7 linked regions of the Homo sapiens genome follow. The protein of the gene in region 1 interacts with the protein of each later gene in a biochemical or structural test. Each region holds a gene or a part of one and is shown in the gene's direction. Other genes may lie near its edges. The genes, in order: GIPC3, DGKZ, RASSF6, DGKK, SLCO1C1, MAP2K2 and FRMPD4.

The links.
Region 2: the proteins of GIPC3 (region 1) and DGKZ interact in a test that uses a peptide from one of them, tested with the Homo sapiens proteins (one large-scale study listed by IntAct).
Region 3: the proteins of GIPC3 (region 1) and RASSF6 interact in a test that uses a peptide from one of them, tested with the Homo sapiens proteins (one large-scale study listed by IntAct).
Region 4: the proteins of GIPC3 (region 1) and DGKK interact in a test that uses a peptide from one of them, tested with the Homo sapiens proteins (one large-scale study listed by IntAct).
Region 5: the proteins of GIPC3 (region 1) and SLCO1C1 interact in a test that uses a peptide from one of them, tested with the Homo sapiens proteins (one large-scale study listed by IntAct).
Region 6: the proteins of GIPC3 (region 1) and MAP2K2 interact in a test that uses a peptide from one of them, tested with the Homo sapiens proteins (one large-scale study listed by IntAct).
Region 7: the proteins of GIPC3 (region 1) and FRMPD4 interact in a test that uses a peptide from one of them, tested with the Homo sapiens proteins (one large-scale study listed by IntAct).

Annotation. Positions count from the first base shown.
Region 1 is NC_000019.10:3,591,260-3,594,041, forward strand, and holds the end of GIPC3 (PDZ domain-containing protein GIPC3), read left to right. Parts: coding exon of another isoform or gene 1-2,029; 3' UTR 2,030-2,282; downstream 2,283-2,782.
Region 2 is NC_000011.10:46,367,963-46,371,462, forward strand, and holds part of DGKZ (diacylglycerol kinase zeta), read left to right. Parts: intron 1-39; coding exon of another isoform or gene 40-42; coding exon 43-117; intron 118-1,531; coding exon 1,532-1,588; intron 1,589-1,978; coding exon 1,979-2,047; intron 2,048-3,350; coding exon 3,351-3,422; intron 3,423-3,500. UniProt on the Homo sapiens protein: Diacylglycerol kinase that converts diacylglycerol/DAG into phosphatidic acid/phosphatidate/PA and regulates the respective levels of these two bioactive lipids.
Region 3 is NC_000004.12:73,585,937-73,589,436, reverse strand, and holds part of RASSF6 (ras association domain-containing protein 6), read left to right. Parts: intron 1-1,502; coding exon 1,503-1,597; intron 1,598-3,500.
Region 4 is NC_000023.11:50,464,326-50,467,825, reverse strand, and holds part of DGKK (diacylglycerol kinase kappa), read left to right. Parts: intron 1-3,500. UniProt on the Homo sapiens protein: Diacylglycerol kinase that converts diacylglycerol/DAG into phosphatidic acid/phosphatidate/PA and regulates the respective levels of these two bioactive lipids.
Region 5 is NC_000012.12:20,698,332-20,701,831, forward strand, and holds part of SLCO1C1 (solute carrier organic anion transporter family member 1C1), read left to right. Parts: intron 1-1,220; 5' UTR 1,221-1,245; coding exon 1,246-1,374; intron 1,375-2,986; coding exon 2,987-3,128; intron 3,129-3,500. UniProt on the Homo sapiens protein: Mediates the Na(+)-independent high affinity transport of organic anions such as the thyroid hormones L-thyroxine (T4), L-thyroxine sulfate (T4S), and 3,3',5'-triiodo-L-thyronine (reverse T3, rT3) at the plasma membrane.
Region 6 is NC_000019.10:4,093,123-4,096,622, reverse strand, and holds part of MAP2K2 (dual specificity mitogen-activated protein kinase kinase 2), read left to right. Parts: intron 1-1,173; coding exon 1,174-1,235; intron 1,236-2,124; coding exon 2,125-2,170; intron 2,171-3,500. UniProt on the Homo sapiens protein: Catalyzes the concomitant phosphorylation of a threonine and a tyrosine residue in a Thr-Glu-Tyr sequence located in MAP kinases. Activates the ERK1 and ERK2 MAP kinases.
Region 7 is NC_000023.11:12,144,973-12,148,472, forward strand, and holds part of FRMPD4 (FERM and PDZ domain-containing protein 4), read left to right. Parts: intron 1-3,500. UniProt on the Homo sapiens protein: Positive regulator of dendritic spine morphogenesis and density. Required for the maintenance of excitatory synaptic transmission. Binds phosphatidylinositol 4,5-bisphosphate.

The DNA of each region.
Region 1 (2,782 bases):
CTCTGAAGCCCAGGCCAGCTCTGAGACGAAGCACATCTCTAGAATCCAGCTGAGCCCTGACAACAAGCCAAACTCTGGAACCCAGACACATTTTAAGACCCAGACCAGCTTGGAGACCAATCCCAGTTCCAGAATCCAGGCTAGCTCGGAGACCAAGCCCTGCTGGAAAACTCAAGCTGACTCTGGAACTCTGGACAGCTCCACGATGCAGCCACACCTGGACACTCGGTCTAGCTCCGGAACCCCAGTTAATTTTGGAACCCATGTGAGATTCATGAAGCAGCCCAGCTCTGGAACCCCAGTCAGCTCAGGATTCAGAGACAGCTCCCAAATCAAATCCTATTCAAGAACTCAGACCAGCTCAGAAACCCAGGTCCACACGGCTGCCCAGTCCAGATCCCAACCCCAGTTGCATCCAAGTGCCCATCCCCATCCTGCAGCCCAGTCCAGCTCCAGTGATGATTCCAGCTCTGAGACTGAGCCCAGCTCTAGAACCTCGCCTAGTGCTACAACCAGGCCCAACTCCAGGATTCAGACCAGCTCTGGAACCCCATCCATCTTGGAAGCAAGACCCAGCTCCAGCACACAGCTTGGTGCCAAGCCCCACTCTCCTTGCACAATGCAGCTCAGCTCTAGAATGCAGTTTACTTCCAGGACCCAGACCAATTTCAAGGCCTGGCCAAGCTCCAGAGCTCAATCCAGCCCAAGCACCGCACCCAGCTCTGGAACTCAGCTCAGTTCTGGAGCACAGGCTGGTTCTGAAATCCCAGCCAGCTCCAAAACACAGACAGCAGCTGAGACCCAGCCAAGTTCCAGAATCCAGCTAAGCTCTGGAGTCCAATCTAGTCCTGGGACCCAGGCCATCGCAGCAATAGAATTAAGCTCCACAGCCCTGTCTAGTTCCGACAGCAGGTCCAGCTCCAGGACCCAGCGCTGCCCAGGAGCTCGACCAGCCTCTGGGACTCAATTCGCCTCTAAAACCCTGCCAGGTTCTAGATACCAGCTCCAGACCACAGCCCCAGACAGCTCTGGTATTCAACTGGACTTTGGGAAGCAGAGCAGTTCTGAAAGTCAGCTTAGCTTTGGAACTCAGCCCAGCTCTGGGACCCAGATAAGCTCAAGAATTCAAGCCAGCTCTGGAAGTCAGCTTAGTTCGGGAACCCAGCTGATTTCCGGAGCCCAACCCAGCTCCAGAACTCAGACTAGTTCTGGAAACCAGCTCAGCTCCGGGACCCAGACCACTGCAAGAATTCAGCTCAGCCCTGGAGCTCATCTTAGCTCCAGAACCCAGTCCAGTCCTGAGACCAGGCTCAGCTCTGAGGCTCAGTCCAGCTCTGGAACCCAGTTCAGTTCTGGGATTCAGTTTGGCTCTGAAACCCAGACCGGCTCAAGAATTCAGCCCGACTCTGGAGCCCAACTTAGTTCCAGAACCCAGTCCAGCTCTGAGACCGGGCTCAGCTCTGAAACCCAGACCGGCTCAAGAATTCAGCCCAGCCCTGGAGCCCACCTTAGTTCTGGAACCCAGCCTGTTTCTGGAACCCAATCCAGTTCCAGAACTCACACCAGTTCAAGAATCTGGCTGAGCCCTGGAAATGGAATCTGCCCACAGACCCCTGGCCTTGACCCTAGAATCCAGCTTGAGGCCCCTGCCCCAGCCCAACCTCAGCCCCCAGGCCCATCCCCCAGAGACCCCACCCCAGCCCCTAGCAAAGACCCCCAGCCTCTGCCTCAGCCCCATGATCAGGTATGTGGCATCCAGGCCAGCCTTGGCCCCATCCCAGGCTTACCCCAAGCCTCCTACCTGGCCCCACAGTCACAGGTCTCCTCAACCCCCCAGAAGCCAGCCGTCTCTCCCAAGCCCCGGGTGGGACCCCAGAAGTCCACCCCACCCACCATATCTGTCACTCCTAGTCCTGCCCCTAGGGCAGCCCTCCTGAGTTCCCAGCTGTCTGAGTCCCCAGCTTTGGCGCCAGCCCTTTGCCCCACTCTGGGGGAGCCAGGAGCCCGCCCTTACCGCGGGGGGCCGTAGCTTGGCTGTGACTTAGCCCTGGTTCATGTGGTTCTCGTCCTCTCCTGTCCCTTCCAGCCTGGGGCCCCCAGAAGCAGCAAGTGACCTTATTTCTCCAGCAGGCGGTGGTAGGGAGTGTGCGGTGGTGAAAACAGGGGCTTCACCGGTCCTGGCTCAGATCCAGGTCCTTGGAGGGAAAAGGAGGGCAGGAGACGGGTTGCACCGCATGTACCCTGAGGGCTCATGGTGAATAAAGGCACCTTCCATCTCTGCAGCCTGGTGTGTCATTTTGGGGGAAGTTTGGGGGAATGCAGAGATGTGGGGCTGGGGGGCTGGCTGAAACTGTGGCAACACTGAATACCTCTTGAGCACCTACTGTGTACCAGGCACTTCATTAAGCACCGCACAGGCATGAGCTTACGTGCCTGCAGGCGACAGGTGCTCCACGAAGACCCAGCCACTGGTCCTTTCTACCAATATTTATTGAGCACGTACTATGTGCAAGGTGCTGTACAGAACACTGTGGTGTTTGAAAGGTTGCTGGGTGAACAAGTGAACAGTGGAGGAAACGGGCATCACTCCACGCTTTTGCATCTCTCTCTCTCTTTCTCTGTTTTATTTATTTACTTATTTACAGATGGAGTCTTACTCTGTCGCCCAGGCTGGAGTGCAGTGGCATGATCTCGGCTCACTGCAACCTCTGCCTCCTGGGTTCAACCAATTCTCCTGCCTCAGCCTTCTGAGTAGCTGGCATTACAGGCGCCCGCCACCATG
Region 2 (3,500 bases), on another chromosome or scaffold:
TACCTGGTGCCTCAGGGGCCCTCTCTTCCTGTCCTGCAGCAGAAGTCAGTGTCTCGAAGAAAGTGCGCAGCCTGCAAGATTGTGGTGCACACGCCCTGCATCGAGCAGCTGGAGAAGGTGGGTGGGTAGCTCAGCTTTGCCCGCCCCTGCCCTTTGGGTGCTGAGGCCCTTTCAGCGCGCACTCACACCCACATGTTATACAAACGGCCTGCCAGGAGTGACCCAGCACTCGGGGGTGAAGAGTCAAGGACCCTGGAGCCAAATGCCTGCGTTCGAATCCTGGCTCCTCACTGATTAGCTGCTGTATCCCCACTGCCTGGAACAAACCTGGCGCCTAGTGGGTTCGTTGAATATCACTCAATGGAATGAATTGACGAATGGTGGCCCTTGTACCATTTCACCATGTCCAAACTAGTGCTTAGAAGAGGCCATTGATTTGCTGAAGCTTCATAACTCAGCTGTGGCTACACCCTGCCTCTGTGGAGACCTTTCCCCAAGGGCCATTGTCCACTGTGCATTTGCAGCTGGGGGCATGTCTGGGCACTGTGCTTCTAGAGGTGGAGGCAGCACTGGGCAGACGGGTCAAGGCCAGGGGCAGAAGGGTTCGCATGGAGGGGCAGCGCTTCCCAGCCTGCAGAAACCCAGGCCATCATACGGGAGAGACTGTAAGACTAGGAGTGGTTCAGGCAGGCTCACACAGGCTGCTTTCCCCAGCCTCTGAATTGTAAAGTGAGGCTTCCTTATACCTCTAATAAGGCTGAAGTAGGGACAGTTATGAGAAGGGAAATAGAAATGCAGCCCCAAGCACTGTACACTCATCATTTAAGGTGGAAATCGACCTAGGGTTCCACAAATTAGCTAAAGGTCTCCAGGGGCCAGGCAGTGCAAGTCTGCGTGTGAGGACCAGGCTGGCTGCGTGTGCCCGGGTCGGGAGTGCCAGAGGGCGAGGAAGAAAGGATGCGGCCGAGTGCGGTGGCTCATGCCTGTAATCCCAGCACTTTGGGAGGCCGAGGTAGGTGGATCACCCTGAGGTCAGGAGTTTGAGACCAGCCTGGCCAACATGGTGAAACCCCATCTCTACTAAAAATCACAAAAATTAGCCAGGCGTGGTGATGCACACCTGTAATCCCAGCTACTCGGGAGGTGGAGGTTGCAGTGAGCCGAGATCGCACCACTGCACTCCAGCCTGGGCAACAGAGCGAGACTCTGTCTCAAAAAACAAAAACAAAAAAAAAACAACGAGCAAACCATGGTCCCATGTTAGTGGGGGAGACGGACCCAAAGCTCCCAACCTCCCCCTCATCCTGGGTCCTGGGTGGAAGAAGGAAAGATCCCTCTGGCTAGTGAGGAGGAGGCAGAGAGGCAGGAGGGCTTCTCACAGGAGGTGTCTCGTGTTTCAAGGACTCTCGTGACGATTTGGGGGTATCCCCACCTTGTGAGGATGACTCTGGGTTGTCCTGGAGGGAGTGACCACATACCTGACCCCGAAGGGAGGTTCTGACATTTTGGTGGTCACTGCCATGTTTCACAGATAAATTTCCGCTGTAAGCCGTCCTTCCGTGAATCAGGCTCCAGGAATGTCCGCGAGGTAAGTGCCCAGGGTGGTCAGGGATGGGGCCACCCTAAGATTCCTGCATGGGCCTCTGCGCAGTGCCTCTGGAGTGCCACCAGGGGGCTCGGCTCCCTCTAGGCTGCTGCTCACTGAGGTCTGTCTGAGGTCTGCCATGCGGAGGCCTAACTAGCGCTGCCTGCGGAGTGGGTGGGACAGCTTGTGCCTCCTGGTGCTTCCCAGCCTTCTCTGTCCCTCTGAGTCTGAGCCTCCCCCAGGCCATGAAGAGAGTCTTTAGCCCCTCCTCCACTCATGCGCAGGACTGCAGAGCGCTTCCTGCAGCCCCGTGTGTTGAGCCGTGTGGGCAGTCCTCAGGACTGTGCCCCTGCCCACCCCTCACCCAGTGAAATTTTTCCCCTTCTCCCCCAGCCAACCTTTGTACGGCACCACTGGGTACACAGACGACGCCAGGACGGCAAGTGTCGGCACTGTGGGAAGGTGAGAGGCCCTGCCCGAGGACATCGCCACCTGCACCTGCGGTCCTGAGCCCAGGCCATGTGGCCGGTGTGGCCTGCCGATCACTGACCACACCCTGGTGTGCAGAGTCCGGGGCTGACCCTCAGCCTGGCTGCAGTGCCTTCAGTTCTCAAGCACCCTGGCCTGCTCTTGGTCTCTGGGCTTAGTAGGAGAGCAGGGAGGAAAGTTTTCTTCCCATGTGGCACACCTGGCCTGCTTTGAAGCTGCAAGTGGCCCTTTGGAGAATCGTATAGACTTACTCATTCGGTGACTCCATGGATACTTGTGTGCCGAGCGCCAAGCTGGGCAGCGGTTTCCCACCCTCCTGAGGACAGTGTGGCTTGAAGCCAGGCTTTCCAGGCGACCGCCTAACCCAGTCCACAGTTGTTTGGTTCACTTTCTTGTTTGCTTCTTGCCCGCCTCCCTCAGTAAGTGCAGGCTCTCAAAGATGGAGAGGCTTGCTTCACTGATTCTCAGCGCCTGGCCCACTGCAGGCCTTTCATAACAGCCTGTGTGATGAACAGGGAATGAATGTGATAGGTACTCGGAAGCGGCAGTAAATTTCTTTAACAGCACATGGGGGTCTGGTCAGGCCTCGGGGGTAGGAAGGAGGGAAAATCCGAGTGAGGCAGGAGTTAGCCTGCAGTGTGGCAGAACGGGTATGCATGTGGTGCCGTGCAGGTAACTTCAGGGAGTCAGGGGGCCCGGGCTAAGCCACCCTGCTCTTCAGGCTTATCTTATACATATTTTTTTTTATTTTAAAAAATGTGTTCAGACTGGGTGTGGTGGCTCACGCCTGTAATCCCAGCACTTTGGGAGGCTGAGGTGGGTGGATCACCTGAGGTCAGGAATTCGAGACCAGCCTGGCTAACATGGTGAAACCCTGTCTCTACTGAAAATACAAAAAATTAGCTGGGCGTAGTGGTGGGCGCCTGTAATCCCGGCCACTCAGGAGGCTGAGACAAGAGAATCGCTTGAACCTGGAAGGTGGAGGTTGCAGTGAGCCAAGATCACGCCACTGCACTCCAGCCTGGGCAACAAGAGCGAGACTCCATCTCCAAACAAAAACAAAAAATGTGTTCAAAGCTGGGCATGGTGGCACATGCCTGTTGTTCCCAGTTACTTGGGGGGGCTGAGGCAGATTGCTTAAGCCCAGGAGTTTGAGACCAGCCTGGGCAACATAGCGAGGCCCTGTCTCTGGGTGGAGAGAGGCTGGCACCAGGAGAGGGGCTGGGTCTGCTGCTCCACGCCTGCCCTGGTTCCCATCCATCCTGTCTACCCTCAGGGATTCCAGCAGAAGTTCACCTTCCACAGCAAGGAGATTGTGGCCATCAGCTGCTCGTGGTGCAAGCAGGCAGTGAGTGGTGCCCCCGCCCCCAGGGCCAGGCCCTGCACTGCTGGGTTTGGGTCCCCGAGTCTGAACACGGTCCCGCTG
Region 3 (3,500 bases), on another chromosome or scaffold:
TTGCATTTTTAGTTTCTGTTTTTCATTGGTATTGACTTTTCCATTCCTAACCCCCCTTCTACGATAATTATGTCTGCCACTTTCTGATTATTAAGCTGCTATAGATTTGGGGAAATGGGTAATTTTATCTGCCATAAGACTAATTAGATTCTGAGTCAGGACCTGGTAGTTTTCCTTTGAGTTAAAGTTATTACCTGTAGTTGGGCTTTATGACATTTGTTTTGATTGGCTGTATTCTGAATAGTACAGCTTGCTGGAAAATTAACAAATATATTAGGATTACCTTCTCTACATCATAAGGCTATTGTGAGACTCAAATGATATAGTAGCCATAAAACACGCTTCAAAAGAATTCAAAAGTAAAGAGGATAAGGGATGACTTTCTTCATATTCACTACCATTAGTATTAATAAATATTTTTTGTTGCCACCAATGAAATTCGGGCAGAGTCAATGCCATAAATTCCCTATAAGTGAATATATTTTAGTCATAAGAAAAACAGACATTACTGAAGAGATTCTTAGATAATAGCAACCATTTGCCTAGAGAGATCCAGGAACACCTTGGGTCCCTAATGGTTCCTGGCCCATCAGGAATGAAATAGATACAGATGCTGGTGATGATGATGATGATGATGATGATGATGATGATGACAATGGAGATGAGGATAATTATAATTATTGTTAATCTATATTGAATGCTTACTATTTTCAGGGCACTGATTCAAGAATTTTATACAAATTAACTCTTTTAATCCTCAAAACAACCCTATCCTACCTCATGCTATTATCATTTTTATTTTACAGATGAGGACACAGGCACAGAGGGGATAAGAAACTTGTTTAAGACCAGATAAATAAAATAAAATTGAGTTTTGACCTGCCGTAAAAATAAACATTTGTCAGGTTTCATGTATTCTGAGCACTAGAATGCACTTAAAATTGCTAGTTTCTTTATGAAATCATAATTTTCTGGCAAAATTCTCATACATTTTCCTCCTTCGTAAACTACATTCTTCATGGTAGTCAAGGGCCTTAAACGATAGGCACTATATTTTATTATTTTAGAGCCACTCTACCTAACAATGTTTTGAATGCAAAAGGTACAATACATATTGACAGAATGTATAAAGAACACTTTTATACCCAAGCTCCCCTAAGAGTATTGTGAAATATCTTTATAACAATTGATCATCTTGGTTTCTACTAATTCAATTTGGACATATGTTTTACAGAATCTATATAACTTGTGTTTCAGTATGTAACTGAATTATTACGTCAAAAAGATATGCTCTATAAAAGTACAGGAAGCATTTAAAACATATATTGACCACTTTGGTATGAATATAATTTTAATAATATCATAAAATTGTTATAACTTTGGACAATATATCCACCTACAGAGGCCCACAGTATTACTATATTAATATTGTAAATCTGGAAACCATCATAGGCTTCAATATAAATGGAACTGATGTACTTACAAGATTTATTACTTCTCAGAATGACACGCTGGGGGGAATTTGACGATCTCTATCGTATTAGTGAGCTGGACAGGACCCAGATTCCTATGTCTGAAAAAAGGAATTCCCAGGAAGGTCAGTATCAAAATCTTATTGATTGGGAGACTTAATTTTTAATTAGTGTAAAGTATGACTCCATATGTTTCTCTGAAATCTAACCTTTTTCATACTACTACACAATAAACTCTTGTTTTATATGTATATATATTTTTAAATATCTTAGGAGCATAGTAACTTAAGTCACTATAGTGCTTGTATGATGTTTAAGAACCTTACTTTGGTATATAAAAATATAATTCTTAAAAAAATTATATTATGTCACTTAGATTTATTAGAATAGGGAGAGCTAATAGTTTTAATAAAGTTTGTATTCATAAAATTGTTAAATATCTTCCCCAAAGATTAGAGTCATTTATTATTCCCAATAGCTTTATATGTTAGGCCAAGCCCATCAGACCTAATTCTGTATCTTTTTAGAAGTTGAACGTTTTAGTTAGTTAATAGATATGTCAATAACATTACTTCTCAGAAAGACACAGATATGCTGGAGTCAATTTTATATTTGATAGAGTTATTTCAGAGATCTTTTTAAAAGAGAAATATACTTAAGGATCAAATGGATCCATACTGAACTTGGCAAACCAATGGGAAATGCCAGCTCCAGGGATGTGTGACATTAGTAGTTATAATCATAATGGTGATGATGTGAGAGTAATAATAGTGATATTGATAGCTGTAATCTGATGAGACTCTGGTAAGTATCAGGCATAATATTTTGTACTTTATATGAATTTTTTCATGTAATTCTCATAAACACATAAGATTCAAAGAGTAGTGGATGCTGATGACTGAAGCTAGAATGAGGGGTGGTGGACAGGGTTCATGTGCCTGAAATGGGGCTGTGATTTACGAAGTCAGTTCAGTGTGAACAAAGGTATCCCACTAGCATTAACTTCATAAGCCTACCAGCAACTTGCAATGTTTGTTCTCTTTTTTTTTTTTTCAAATCATTCTCAATTCTGCCTCGTCTGCTATTCCACAGGAACCCAGATCCTGTGACAAACATGATGTTCCTTCCAGGGTTCCCTTTTCTCTTTATGCCATGGGATCTTTACATCTTGTTAAATATCGGCCCTTCCAATTATCTTTTAGAAATATATATGAAACCCAAGGAAATCCCAGTATCTTGGCATCAAAGACATCATAAAAATATATTTGTATTTAAACAGCAGTGCTAGAGAAGGAAGAAATATCTCATGCCTATTTGATAATGTTCTAATTACAGTAGAAAATTTTTTAAAATCCTAAAGTAAAATAAAACACAAATGCCACCACATGGTCTTATTCTTACATATGAATATGCATAGGAGAGGAAATTGAAAAAGGTACTATCAATTGTATACAAGCAGAAAGGGGGGCAGAAGGCAGGTTTGAATCTTCTGCATCTTAGGCTAGTAACACATTGTAGCTCAATTCAATTCCATTTAAACACCTTCTGCCTACTCAATAGATACTAGAGTTGTTCAACGCTACACTATAATTTTATACTCTAAAATCTGCTATAGAAATTGTAATAATTCAGTAACCAAATTTTGACTAATCAATTATGAATCATTGTTAAATATACATGACTCAATGAGAAGAAATAATAGGATAGTGGACAACTAAGTGAAAAAGTCATTCATATCATACATCTGGAATGTTCTAAAAAGAACATAATGTGATATATTACAAATAGTAGGACTAGTCCAAAGCATACTATTCCTTTTGCTTTTATAAAAGATGGGAACAAAATCTTTCAATGCTCCACATACCATATAAATAGCTTCTCAAAGAGCTTTCTGTAGTTTTATAGGAAAACTAAGGCCCAGTGTTTATTTTTTAGGAAAAGCTCCAAAGAACTTGGGCCAACATATAATGGGGTGGGGGGAGGGGGGAGGGATAGCATTAGGAGATATACCTAATGCTAAATGACGAG
Region 4 (3,500 bases), on another chromosome or scaffold:
ACCCTCAATGTTGCTATGCAATTGCTCTCTGGTGCAGCTGGGAACATCTGATCTTCAGTGATAGGATCATTCTCTCCTGCATCTTCCTCAGACAAATGGCACCTGCAACCAGCTGGCTTGTATCTTAACATTCAAGGCAAACAGGTTGTCATCTTAGCTGGGGTGATGTTGTTTTCAAACACTGCCTCCTCGAGGCAAGCTTGGGGGGAAAAAACTGTGCAACACGCACAGGCGTGCACACACCCCTAACACACACACATACTATACATATGTGCCCAAAATGTCAGGGAACAAAACAAAATACAGGTCTCATCATGCAATGAAATCCTCCATAGCAAGCATGAAACTATCCTGATAATTCAAAGGATGAAATGAGCAAAACCAAGTGTTTGAATATGACTGCAAGTTTCTCCCAGATAATTTTGTTGACTGGTATTGTAGCAAAAAACCAACATCTTTCAGCCTTGTAGTCTGCTCTTTTTTGGAATTTCAGGAAAGTTTCAGAACCTGCAATTGACTGAGAAAAGGGGGCTCATGTTTTCTTTTCAAATAGCTACCAGGATAACACAGTCAGTCTGTGAACCAAACATGTCTATTTCTTTCCTTTCTAAAATGTTTCAATTCCCAGGAAATGAGCCATGGTCTCCCACCTGGTGGCAGCAAGTGTAAGTAAGGATGTGTGAATTGGTTCTTTAGCAATGCTATAACTCTCTTGGGGGAGGGATGGGGCTTATATGAAGTAGACCATGTTTCTTTCTCTCTCATCAGCTGTGCTTGAAGAAAGACAAAATTTTGTTTATTCATTGGGTTTTGACCAGCTATGAAATGAAAATCACATCATACAAATGATTGATGAAAATCTGAGGGGAGATACACTTTCATGGCTTTTGGGGGAGATAAAAGGGGTCTGTGTATCCCTCCTGATGACTGCACAGTAATAACCATTATCCTCAAACCATATCAGGACAGCTTTTATGCACAAAACTGATATTTTTGTACATTTTCTTGCAAAATAGCAAGCATTTGTTTATATGATATCTGGTGATTCCTATCAATATTTTATTAGTGATTTCTGAGCTTCTCAAAAATAGGGGTGGCCTTTCTCAGTGCCTAGTTCAATGCAGCCCTCCTTGATTTTGCTTAATAAACACTTGCTGAAGCTTGAAAACTATCCATTTCCAGCAATGTAGAGGCTGCTGCTGTGAATGAATAAAAATTTGTTCTCATTGGTTTCAGAGTGAGAAGTAAATACTTATTTAAATGGCATGGAATATATAGCCCTTAAGGAAATACAGTCAATCTTTCCATTTTCAGAGTGGTTATTGGAACTATAATTAAGAAGCAAATTACTAACAATTTTTATTAATGGCTTGGAAAGTGTCCTTATCCCATGCAGTCCCAGCAGCAGCAGACTAATAATGATATTGTTAGCTTCAGGGGATAATAAATTTTTTTCCTAAGTGAACAGAGTATCTGCAGTGACTGTAAACAGATTTGGGATTATAGATTCAGATGTTTAACCTGTTGAAGGTCAGAATGAAATTACTTTCTTTTCTCTTCAGTTTTTCCCCCCTCCTTGCCAAGCTTTGATGATACCATCTGATTTATTTGGTGTATTCTAATAGTTCCTAAGCAGTCACTACAGGGTGTTCTAGAAAAGATAATGAAGTATTGGTCAGTGGTCTTTAGTTTCTCAGAGTACAATTCTTATGCACTTATTAAAATCTCCGACTAGGGCTTCTGCAGATCTGCAGCCCAAAGGGAAAGTGCCTCCAAGGAAAGGCAAAAAAAAAAAAAAAAAAAAAAAAGAAAAAAGAAAAAGAAAAAAATATCCATAGAAACCAGGAAACCATTCAGGGGTATTCTAATAAGGATTATATAGTTCCTTCTGCTCCTGTGGCACTTTACAGTTTACAGAGTGCTTGCCTCTGCATTATTAACCCTTTTATTTCCTTGAACAAGGCAGCAGGTGGGGGAGGGCAAAAATAAAACTTGACAGCTTATAGGATGTAATGATTGAATTTTCTATTGTAGATTTTTTTAAAAATCTGACATATGGCCTTTTGTGATACATAGGATCCTCATTTGTCTAAGAACAGTCTTTTAGCTGACATTTCATCAGCTCTGAATTTTTTTCCAAAGCGGTGGTTGCTGCTCCACTTCTGATGCTCCCAGAGGGGGCCAGCATAGAAGAGGAGCCAGAGAAGAAACGAGAAGAGGCAGAGACCCTGAACCGATTACTCACAAAGACCTTTTTTGTTGGTGCGTGTGTGTTTTGTAAAGGAAATAAATTGAAATCCTGCTAAGGATAGGGTGCCCGACCTTTCCAAAGCCCACCCACTGTAATTCTTTCAGTGGAAAAAAAATAATTTTAAAGGAAAAAAAAAAAAGCAAGCAAGCAGCCATTCTAAAGGGAGATGCCCCACCCTCACCAAAGCAAATAGAGCTCATTCTCAAAATAATAAAAACAAATTTATGAATTTTAAAAACGAAAAGAAAGGGACAGTGACCCCAGATAATGAAATTTATCTCTCCTCTGAAAATTATTTTAAGAAAAAAAAAGAAACAGCTTCTAAAAGGAAGTTATCCTCACCCTCATCAAAGCCCATGGAACTTATATCCCCCAAAGAAAAATTTTAAGATGAAAAAAGAGAAATCATCTTAAGTTAAACAGTATTTCTAACCTTAAAATATTCATGAAATTTGTAAACTTTATTTGACTTCATGGCTCATGCTTAATCTCTTGAGAAAATTAAGGGGGCAAAAATAAAGGGAAGGTCCCCCAACCTCATCAAAGCTTCCTGACATTATTTTCCCGATTACATAAAATGTGCAGAGGAGGCAAATCCTTAGAGATGGAAAGGAAATGAGGGAAGCAATATGGGAGGTGGAAAAGGGGATGATGGCTAAAGAGTACAGGGTTTCTTTTGAGGGTGATTAAAATGTTCTAAAATCAGAGAATGGTGATGGGTGCACAACACTGTGGATACAATAAAACCCACAAAATTGTGTATGTTAAGATGATGAATTTTATGGTATGTAAATTACATCTCAATTTTTAAAAATAGTTCAAAGAAAGATACCATCCCTCTAACCACAAGATAAGAGACCTATTATTCTCCCAAAAACAAAAAACAAACAAAATTGAAAAAAGGAACTAAAAGAAAGGGAGATCCTCTTAAAGGATCTTCAACCTCGCCAAGGATAATAACCTTTATTTGCCACCCCTTCAATTAAAAAAAAAGAAATTAAGGAAAACAAACAAAAAAAGGAAATCTTTTTAAGGGCAGATATTCTCAAAAATCATAAAAGTTAATGAAATTTACGAATCCTCCCCTCTAGATACACACATTTTAATTAAAAAAAGAAAGAAATATTAAAGGATAGGTCCCTGACTATACCAAATCTCCAGAATTTTTAATTCCAAGAAGCAGGGGCGCGGGGGGTGCGGGAGGGAGGGACAAAAGAAATACCACTCCTCCATGACTAAAGAGCATAAA
Region 5 (3,500 bases), on another chromosome or scaffold:
GCCTAATAATAATTTTTTTGAAACCAGACCCTTGTCTCATCCTTTCCTTTAGTCAATTCCCACTCCCTAGAGGAATCCACTTAATTTTTAAATTGTTGAAGTCCTCTGATGTTTTAACTTCATATTATTAATACAAAGCAAATCGTTTATACTATTACTTGATTTTTCAGTTTGAGAAAGTATGAATTGAAATGGTGAGGGATGAGGTTTAGTGAACACAAAACAAGCATTGCATAAAGTCAAGGTGATATACTCAGTCAGAATAGATTTCTGCCACAATACATGAAATTTGACTCCTAACATTATTCCTTTAGGAATAACATTATTCCACTCCTATTATGTGGATATAGAAGTCCTCTATTAATGTACAATTGGGTCATCTGATAATATTAGGGAGATTGAGAAATACTTTGTTTGTTGAATTCCTTGATTTAGGTTAGATTATCAGGCAGGCACTGAGCCATGTGGAATCCTAAAGAAGTAGGGGCACAGGATATGTAAATATTGATGTGAACAGGGAGAAAATAGGTTCAGTGTGTGATCCTGTCCTGTGAGGGGCGGTGGGAAATTGAGCATGGGAAGCAAGGCTGTCTTTTTTACTTTAAGGCTGATCAAAGACTGTTCTTTCACCTGAATTAAATCTAAGGCACAAATCATGTTGCTCCCTTATTTATCAAACAAAAACAATACACAAATTGGACCTCTTCTTTTTTGTCATATTTTAAGGCTCACATTGGGTGCTACAGGAATCATAAGGTGGTACAGGGACCTATAATGAATGTAAAACTTCTATTTGTTTTGCTAAGAAGATAGATTTAAAGGCTTTAAAGACTTTATCCTAATGAATCAATATTCAAATAGTTGAATTCCTCTTCTTCCTTTCCTGCTTGCTCCTAGTTTAAACTGGCAAGACCACAAAGTTAGCAAAATTCTGCCTCATTATTTATTCCAAAGGCAACACTTAAATTTATTCTTTGCCATAATGAGGCTTAAACTGGGCAGATTGAGAAAGAATGCTGGCTACAGAGTTCCAATAGCAGGATTAGTTAATCAGATATCCTGGTTGATTTTAATTGAAAACATTTGCCAACTTACTGTGACAACAAAAGGTAGATTCACTTTAAATTGCGTCTATAGAATTGTGGTATACTGTTGAATAAAAAAATTTAATAAATTGCGTAGTATTTATTTATTTTTACTTTAAAAACTAACTTTGACAGATCAGAGTCAAGGAATGTGTTTATAATGGACACTTCATCCAAAGAAAATATCCAGTTGTTCTGCAAAACTTCAGTGCAACCTGTTGGAAGGCCTTCTTTTAAAACAGAATATCCCTCCTCAGAAGAAAAGCAACCATGCTGTGGTGAACTAAAGGTAGAGCAACCAAGAAGTAAATAGTGTTGATGCTCTTAGTTTTCTGTCCAGATATCATCTATATAATGAAGTTAGAATGAGAATTGTTTTCTCCTTTAAAAAAAAAAAAAGATCTTAGATGCAATTTACTAAAACCACACCTTGCCAGGCGGTGCAAGCAATCTCTACCTGACCATGTGGGTTAAATTACTTTCCTGGGCTCATTTAAATGCCCCCCCAAACAGAAAAGAGAGAAATAGTAGAAACTAGTATTTATTGAACTTCTGCCATGTGCCAGATATTAAGCCAAGCACAGATATAACATTTAATTTGTGAAACATCACATTACTCCCATTTTGCAAATAAAAATGGGAATAATGTTACAGAGTAGGGAGAAGAGTTGCTTTTTTTTTTTTTTAGGATTGTTGTATCAAACAATAGTTTTTAGTTTTTTGAGGAACCTCCATACTATTATATTTTCCAAAGAGACTACATCAACTTATGTAACCACTAACCATGTACAAAGATTCCCTTTTCTTTACATTCTAACCAGTTTTTATTTTTTGTTATAGCCAACAGATGTGAAGTGATATGTCATAAAGATTTTTATTTGCATCTCCATAATGACTAGTGATGTTGAGCACCTTTTTCATATACCTGTTGGCCATGCCTTCTTTTAAGTAATGTCTATTTAGATTATTTGCCCATTGTTAAAATCATGCTATTTTTCTTTGCTATTTAGTGATAGAAGTTTCTTTTTTTTAATTATTTTTTAATTATTATACTTTAAGTTCTAGGGTACATGTGCACACGTGCAGGTTTGTTACATACGTATACATGTGCCATGTTGGTGTGCTGCACCCGTTAACTCGTCATTTACATTAGGTATATCTCCTAATGCTGTCCCTCCCCGCTCCCCCAATCCCCCGAGAATAGTTGTTTCTTAAGGGATGCTTTGTGTGCTCCTATTCTTTCTTTATACAAATATTCACTCAACAAATCTCTGCTTTTTTCATATAAATGCTAACCTTCCCTATGAATGTTCTATCACAGACCCATGTCTATCAAAATATATAAGCTAGATATCAAAGACATGTTTTCCATTGAGAAAAATATTTGACTATGAATTTAATAAGTATAAACATAAACACAAGGAATAATAGTTGCACTTTTTCAGTCTGTACATTATGTTCCCGGCTGGTGCATGCACCACCCTGTGAAATACATAATCCCAAGTGCTGGACTTGTTATAGGATGTCAAGTGTTTGGCTTATGGTTTCATTTACTTTCTTACCAATGAATGTCTCACCATACACTGACTCTTCAATGTAAGACTCCTTTGAGTGCCCCTCTGGAGCAGAGTGGAAGAAGACAAAAGATAATTCAATACACATTTCGCATAAAAACCAAATATATATTTTAAATTCCAAGAGAATTTGAACTGTTGAAAACTTACAGTGCTTAAGGCTGATGGAAACCTCGAACAGTGTTTGAATTAAAGTTTCAGTGATAATAAAGTTGATATTATACATTGTTCTTTGTTGTTTGTTTTGTATTTGTTTGTCTATTTACTTAGTTTCCAATTGTGTGTCAAGCTGGAGTCAGACTAAGTGTGACCTGTCATATTTTCCAGGTGTTCTTGTGTGCCTTGTCTTTTGTTTACTTTGCCAAAGCATTGGCAGAAGGCTATCTGAAGAGCACCATCACTCAGATAGAGAGAAGGTTTGATATCCCTTCTTCACTGGTGGGAGTTATTGATGGTAGTTTTGAAATTGGTAGGTATTACAGATGCCTGACTTTAATTTTAAGCCCAAGATCTTCTAGGTGTGGCTAAAGAACACCTTCTGCATTCTATTGTCTGCTGGGATCAGACTCTATTCATAAAATCTTTTTTTTTTTTTTTGGACAGAATTTACCATGATCTTATTCTACAGGAGAGGCAATTTTCTCAGAGCAATCAACAGTAAATTTTTCTCCCCAGGTGTTTGGTATTGTATGGTTCACACAATTCAGAGTTCTACATCAGAGTAAGTGACTTTCTTGGAGGAAAGGGTGAGATGCTAATTGGTATTTTGAGTTATAAATATGTAGAAGTATCTTTACAGAAGAACAATACACCCTGGGAGCACTATGATTCAATTTTAGAG
Region 6 (3,500 bases), 500 kb from region 1:
TGTAGGTCCCGGGGTGGCTCCTGCTCCGTCAGTCCCCATAACAACCCAGTGAGCCACAGTATGAGGGTTTCCACCGCCCAGATGAGTAAAACAAGGCACAAGGAGGGACGCGGCCTCCTTCCAGGCCTGCAGCTGTCAGGGAGGCACAGGACTGCACCCCAAGGTCCTGTTGGCCACGTGACCAGGCCGGGCCACCTCCCTGGGCCTTCTGTGGGTTTCTGTGTCTTTGGTGGCCCTTTGGAGCTGGGGCAGAGAAACGGGCATTTGAGCTGCCTGCAGACTGGGCTAGGCCTGGGGTTGGGTGGCGAGATGATGACGGAGCCAGGTGGGGTGGCCCTGGTGACCCAGCTCTCCCTGCACCTAGCAGCCACACCCATGCCCAGTGAGCACATCCCCCGACCTCTCCCCCGCCTCTTCCCGCCCCTGCCCCTGCGCGGGAAAGGCCTGCCCCTGCCCTGCTGGCACCGCTTACACGGCCACTCCCGCTCCGGGGACGTGTGTCAGGCCAGGCTCCCCAGTGCTTGGGCTTAAAACTGTGGACCCAGTTTGGCCGGGCACGGTGGCTCAGGTGTGTAATTCCAGCACTTTGGGAGGCCACAGTGGGTGGATCACCTGAGGTCAGGAGTTCGAGACCAGCCTGGCCAACCTGGTGAAATACCGTCTCTACTAAAAATATAAAAATTAGCCAGGCGCAGTGGTGGGCACCTGTCATCCCAGCTACTCAGGAGGCTGAGGCTGGAGAATCCCTTGAACCCCGGAGGTGGAGGCTGCAGTGAGCCAAGATCACGCCATTGCACTCCAGCCTGGGCAACAGAGCGAGACTGTCTCAAAACAAAATAACTTTGGATCCAGATGTCCCTCTGTGGGGCCCAGTCCCAAAGCTCATCCTTCAGCCAGTGACACTGGGGAAGGAAGCAAGTGACGACACTCGAGAGGTTGTCCTGTTGATAAAAGGGGGACGCACCCCACTCTTTCCCTCTAAGCAGCCGTGACTCTCAAACGAGAGCTTTCGGGAGAAGGCCACCTCTGACAGGGTGCAGCCCAGTTGGCATGTGGTGTCGGCCAGGCCTGCAGGGTGGGTGACCGGACAGGACAGTGAGGGGTAGAGAGGGCTGCAGCCGAGGGTCCCTGACGATGCCCAGGGCTGACCCCACCCTCTGTTCTCCTCCACAGCCACCTCCTAAGCTGCCCAACGGTGTGTTCACCCCCGACTTCCAGGAGTTTGTCAATAAATGGTAGGTGGAGCCGGGCTGCCCACACCCCTGGCCGGGACCCAGATGTGCCACTCCTTCCGGGTCCTGGGTGGGGCCCGTGGCCCAGCCTGCCCATCCAGAATCCCAGTGCAGCGTTAGGCAGGACTCAGCCCAACGGGAAGCCAGATTCCTTTTCCCAGAGCTGTGGGGCTGCAGCTCCCGGCTGCCATGCCATCCTGTCCGTGAGCCCAGGGGTGAAGCAGGATTGCAGGCCCTGTGCACATGACGGTGTCCCCAGCTCACTGTCTGCAGCAGGAGAAGCCTCTGTCTGGTCCCCGGACCCCTGGTGTGCTGACTGTGGGCTCCCCGGGATCCGCCCGCAGGTTCTGGGAGGGTCGCCAGCCCCACTCCATTCTCCTGCCCCCAAGCACCCAGCAGCACCTGTGGCGTGGGCTTCACAGGCATGTGCCGCAGACCACGGGGAAGGAGCTGCGGACACCCCGCTGCCCACAGGGCCGGTCCATGTGTGTGAGCTCGGGACGCCGTGGAACGGCACCGCACTCCTGGTGCCGGAGTTGCCCCGGGCCCTTGGCGTGCGCTCCGGCGATGTTGCCCCGGGCCTGGGGTTTTATTAGACAGTTAGCTGGGGTTGCGTCCAGGCTTCTGACCCACCAGGCGGGGTTTCCCACCCTCTTTCCCTCTCACCCTCCCGCTGGGGGGTGTCCTGCCCCTGGCACCAAAGTGCAGAGGTGGATCCCTCGTCCTCTGCCAGGAGGCAGAACAGAGCAGCCACTCTGTGCCACTCTCTCTGGTCGGAGAGATCCAGGCCCCCTCCGACCACGGCCCACACGCGGGTGCCCCGGGGCCACCAGCTGACTGCCCTGTCTTGTCTCCTCCACCGCCTCCCGGTCCTGCCTCTTGGAACCCCCAGCCTCATCAAGAACCCAGCGGAGCGGGCGGACCTGAAGATGCTCACAGTGAGTGATGCCAGCGGGTTCTGGGACCGGGAGGGTGCAGGCTGCCACCCAGGCCCCAGGAAATAAGGCTGCTGGGCCTGGCCCTGCCCGGGGAGCCAGCACCTGCGACCAGGATGTGGGCAGGCCGGGTGTGCCAGGCCACGCCGAGGACCCTCTGTGGGTCTCTCTCATCCATGAGAGAAGCCATCCTGGGCTGGCTGCGGGGAGCAGAGGGTGTGTGCGTGGGAACAGCTCTGGGCTCTGAGCTCCGCCGCTCCTGCCTGGTGCTGGTCCCGCACCCACAGGATGAGACCCCGGGCTTCTTTGCCCTCATGAGAGGCTGGAGGCAGCTCTCAGCCCCCCAGGCTCCTTTCCCTGCAAACTAGAGGGTGACCATCCCTGTTCTGCACACTGGCAAGCAGGTCCCCCGAGGCCGTGCGTACTTCGGTGTCCCCTTAAACCCCCATCCTCTGATATCCTCGGAAGCCCAGCTGTTCACCAAAACTCGCCTCCCCAGCGGGGACTACACCCTCAGAGGAGGGCCCCGGGCATCATCCTCCTGCCCTCAGCCCAGCCTGCATCCCGAGTGCTTTCCCATACCACAGCCACCGTCAGCGACCTTCAAACCCCTCGACAGCTGATTGGCGGATTGGAGATGCCACCCCCCTAGACAGCCCGTTACTTTCTGTGCCTGTAAGAAAAGAAGAGATGCCAGCTACAGACACCCAACCGGGTGCCTTCTAATACTGGAATGTGGCTTTCAGTTTTGTTTTTTTCTTGAGAGTCGGACAGAGTCTCACTCTGTCGCCCAGACTGGAGTGCAGTGAAGCAATCTCAGCTCACTGCAGTCTCAGCCTCCCAGGCTCACACAATTCTCCAGTCAGCCTCCCAGGTAGCTACGATTACAGGCACCCGCCACCACACCCGGCTAATTTTTGTATTTTTAGTAGAAACAGGCTTTCACCATGTTGTCCAGGCTGGCCTCAAACTCCTGACCTCAGGTGATCCACCTGCCTCAGCCTCCCAAAGTGCAGAGATTACAGATGTGAGCCACCGCACCTGGTCAAAAAAATTTTTGAGATACAGCCTTGCTCTGTCCCCCAGGCTGGAATGCAGTGGTGCGATTGTAGCTCACTGTAGCCCCAACTCCCGTGCTCAAGTGATCCTCCCACTCAGCCTCCTGAGCAGCTGGGGCTACCGATGTGTGCCACCAAGCCCAGCTAGTTTTTGTGTGTGGGTTTTGTTTTTCCCCGCAAAGATGAAGTCTCACTCTTGTCACCCAGGTTGGAGTGCAGTGGTACGATCTCGGCTCACTGCAACCTCCGCCTCCCAGGTTCAGGGAATTCTCCTG
Region 7 (3,500 bases), on another chromosome or scaffold:
GAAAGAAATGTTTCCAAAGTTTGAAAATGAAAAGTAATTTCCCTGCAATTACAATTTACTATAGGGTTTTAATTTTTATTTTGGTTATTTTTTATAGGCTTCACAAGTTTTATGAGATTTGCTTAATTGAAAATAAGAACATGATTACCTGACAAAGATGAGGTTCAAAGAAAGCAGTAGGCAAAAGTTCATAAAATTAATGGTAAAATTTTCCTAATGAATGTAGGAATGAGTGTATTTTTCTATTGAACTGGCACAGTTATTTATCTGGTCAGAGACTGGTGTGGGGGAGAACACGCGGCCATCTGGCTGATTCAAGGCTGTTGTATTGATTCAACATTGGATAACATACTGACCATGGTGATTTTACAATGGTTCCTGTAACTGGAGTCCTGGATATTTGTCTCTTTTGAAGTTCACGATCCAAGTCACCGGTCTTTACCCTAGTACAGGAGCAGTTAGCAGTCTCAGCTATACAGTGGTGGAGTCTGGAATTAGTTTTGGTGTAAATCCCAAACATGCCCAACTGAATTGTGGCTCAGGGCGATGTCCTGCTTCATGGCCTAGGGCCAGGGCTGGCAAACTTAACCCATCTGATGTGTTTACTTATTTTAGAAAGCTTTATGACCATTTTTATAAATAAAGTTTTATTTAAACACAGCCATGCCCTTTTGTTTGTATACTGTGGCTGCTCTTGGGAGAGTTGGATAGCTGTGACAGAAACCACATGGCTTGCAAAGCCTAAAATATTTACTCTCTGCCCTTTACATGGGTATTTTACTGTTCTTCTTTGATCTCTCTGCCCAGTACTCAAATTTCCCTTTGGGGCAGTCTGGGTGTCAGCCTTCTTTACTAGCAGGGGGAAGGATGGATATGGTTGGAGATTCACCCTGAACACAGTCACCCTTGCCAGCCCCGCTCTGGGGGACTTAAACTGTCAGCACTTACAATACCACTTGTAGGTTAACTTAGAAGCTTTGTAAAGTGCAAATTGGATCCTCCCTGTCCCCTCCGTCTACATACTTTTGAGGGGAAAATCCATATTCTTTATCCTTACCCTTTTGGGTTTGGCCTGATTCACTTGGTTCCTTTGAGAACTGTATTTCTCGGGCTGGGCGCGGTGGCTCACGCCTGTAATCCCAACACTTTGGGAGGCCGAGGTGGGCGGATCACAAGGTCAGGAGATCGAGACCATCCTGGCTAACACGGTCAAACCCCGTCTCTACTAAAAATACAAAAAAATTAGCCGGGCGTGGTGGCGGGCGCTTGTAGTCTCAGCTACTCGGGAGGCTGAGGCAGGAGAATAGCTTGAATCTGGGAGGCGAAGCTTGCAGTGAGCTGAGATTGCGCCACTGTGCTTCCAACCTGGGCAACAGAACGAGACTCTGTCTCAAAAAAAAAAAGAAAAGAAAAAGAGAACCATATTTCTCTGAACTTGTTATTCCTCCTTTCCAGCCTTAACTTCCTACTCAACACCAAACACACACGTGTATACACACACATACAGAGACACACACACACACACATCTACCCCTAACCATGTTGAATTTTTTAGAAGTCCTAAAAAGTGCCACACCCTGAGCCTTTGCATAAACTCTTCATTTTGTCTGGAACAATCTTTATCTTGCCTCCTTTACACCTGAAAAATTCCTATCTGTCTTTTATATTTCAGCTTTTAATCTAAGGTTGTTCCATGTCACCTTCTCCAACCTCCCAATCCTGGGTTAAATAGCTCGACTGACATCTTTTATTAGCGAAGATAATTTCACTGCTTTAACAGATCAATCCCTCAATTTTTGTGGCCCATCTCTTGTTTGCTTGATACACAAAACAGGCATTCCTGATGGTGTGGGGGAGCTCTGATATGCTCAGCCATTCTGAGAACCTGTAAGATAGGACTATCTCATCTTCAGTATGCTATCGAAGGTTTCCTGCACATCAGTGTTCAGCTGACAGATGAGGGGAGAGAATGGTAGAAGATTGGGTGACAGGTTTTTAAGGGCTATGCCCAGAATCAAAGTATACCATTCTACCCTCATTCCATTAGGCAGAACTCTGACCCTATGTAACTGTGAGGCAAGCTGGGAAGTTTAGTGCCACTGTGTACCCTATCTGTGCTGGACATGTCATGCCCTGCTCTTTTCACAACATTTCTTCATTGTGTGGTAGATTGTAATTTTGTTCCCAATTCTTAAATCTTCCCTGAATCCAAGCCTTTTCCATGTGACATTATAGTTCTACTTCCTAGAGGTAGAGGGTACCTCTTTGCCCCATTGCTGTTGGGCTTGGCCAAGTAACTTGCTTTGGCCAGTGGAATATGGACAGAAGTCACAGGGTATCTGTTTTGGTACAAGTTTTTGGTAGGAGAATGCCTTTAAGGTATTGTACGTTTCTAAAAAAGAATGTAAAAAAGCAAAAAGCTCTTAACATTGCTATATGAAGAACTGCCTAGTTTAACCTGTTGGTCCTAGAAGCTAGATTCACATGGACCAGCACCATCAGGCAAACCTGTGAGCATGAAAACAGATGCTTATTCTTGTATGACACTGTGTTATGCAGCATTGTTGTGGCAATGGCTGACTGGTATAGATGGTATTATAATTGAGTCCAGTTTTGATCTGTGTCTCATTTATGAACTCTTCAAGGGCAAATCCCCTGGTATTAAACCTCCTTGGTTTATAGTAGATTTAAGGATACCTTGTTTCATTGCACTCTGGTTTATTGGTGCTTTATAGATACTGCACTTTCTACAAATTGAAGGTTTGTGCCAACTCCACATCAAGCAATCTGTCAGCACCATTTTTTCAACAGCATGTGCTCATTTCGTGTTTCTGTGTCATATTTTTCATTATTATTATTATATCTGTTATGGTGATGTGTGATCAGTAATCTTTGATGTTACTATTGGAATTGTTTGATGTTACTATTGCAATTGTTTTGGGCTGTCATGAACCACACATATAAGATGGCAAACTTAATTGATAAATGTTGTGTGTGTTCTGACTGCTGTACCAACTAGCCATTCCCTCATGTCTCTCCCTTTCCTCAGGCTCCCCTGTTCCTTGAGACATAACAATATTGAAATCAGGCCAATTAATAACCCTACAGTAGCCTGCAAGTGTTCAAGTTAAAGGAAGAGTTGTACATCTCTCACTTTAAATTGAAAGCCAGAAATAATTAAGTTTGGTACGGAAGGCATGTTGAAAGCTGAGATAGGCCAAAAACTAGACCTCTTGTGCCAAACAGTTCGCCAAACTGTGACTACAAAGGAAAAGCTCTTGAAGGAAATTAAAAGTGCTACTCCAGGAAACACACAAACGATAAGAAAGTGAAACAGCCTTATTACTGATATGGAGAAAGTTTGAGTGGTCTGGATAGAAGATCAAACCAGCCACAACATTCCGTTAAGCCAAAGCCTAATCCAGAGCAAGACTCTTAACTCTCTTAAATTCTGCGAAGGCTGAGAAAAGTGAGGAAGCTGCAGATAAAACGTTTGAAGC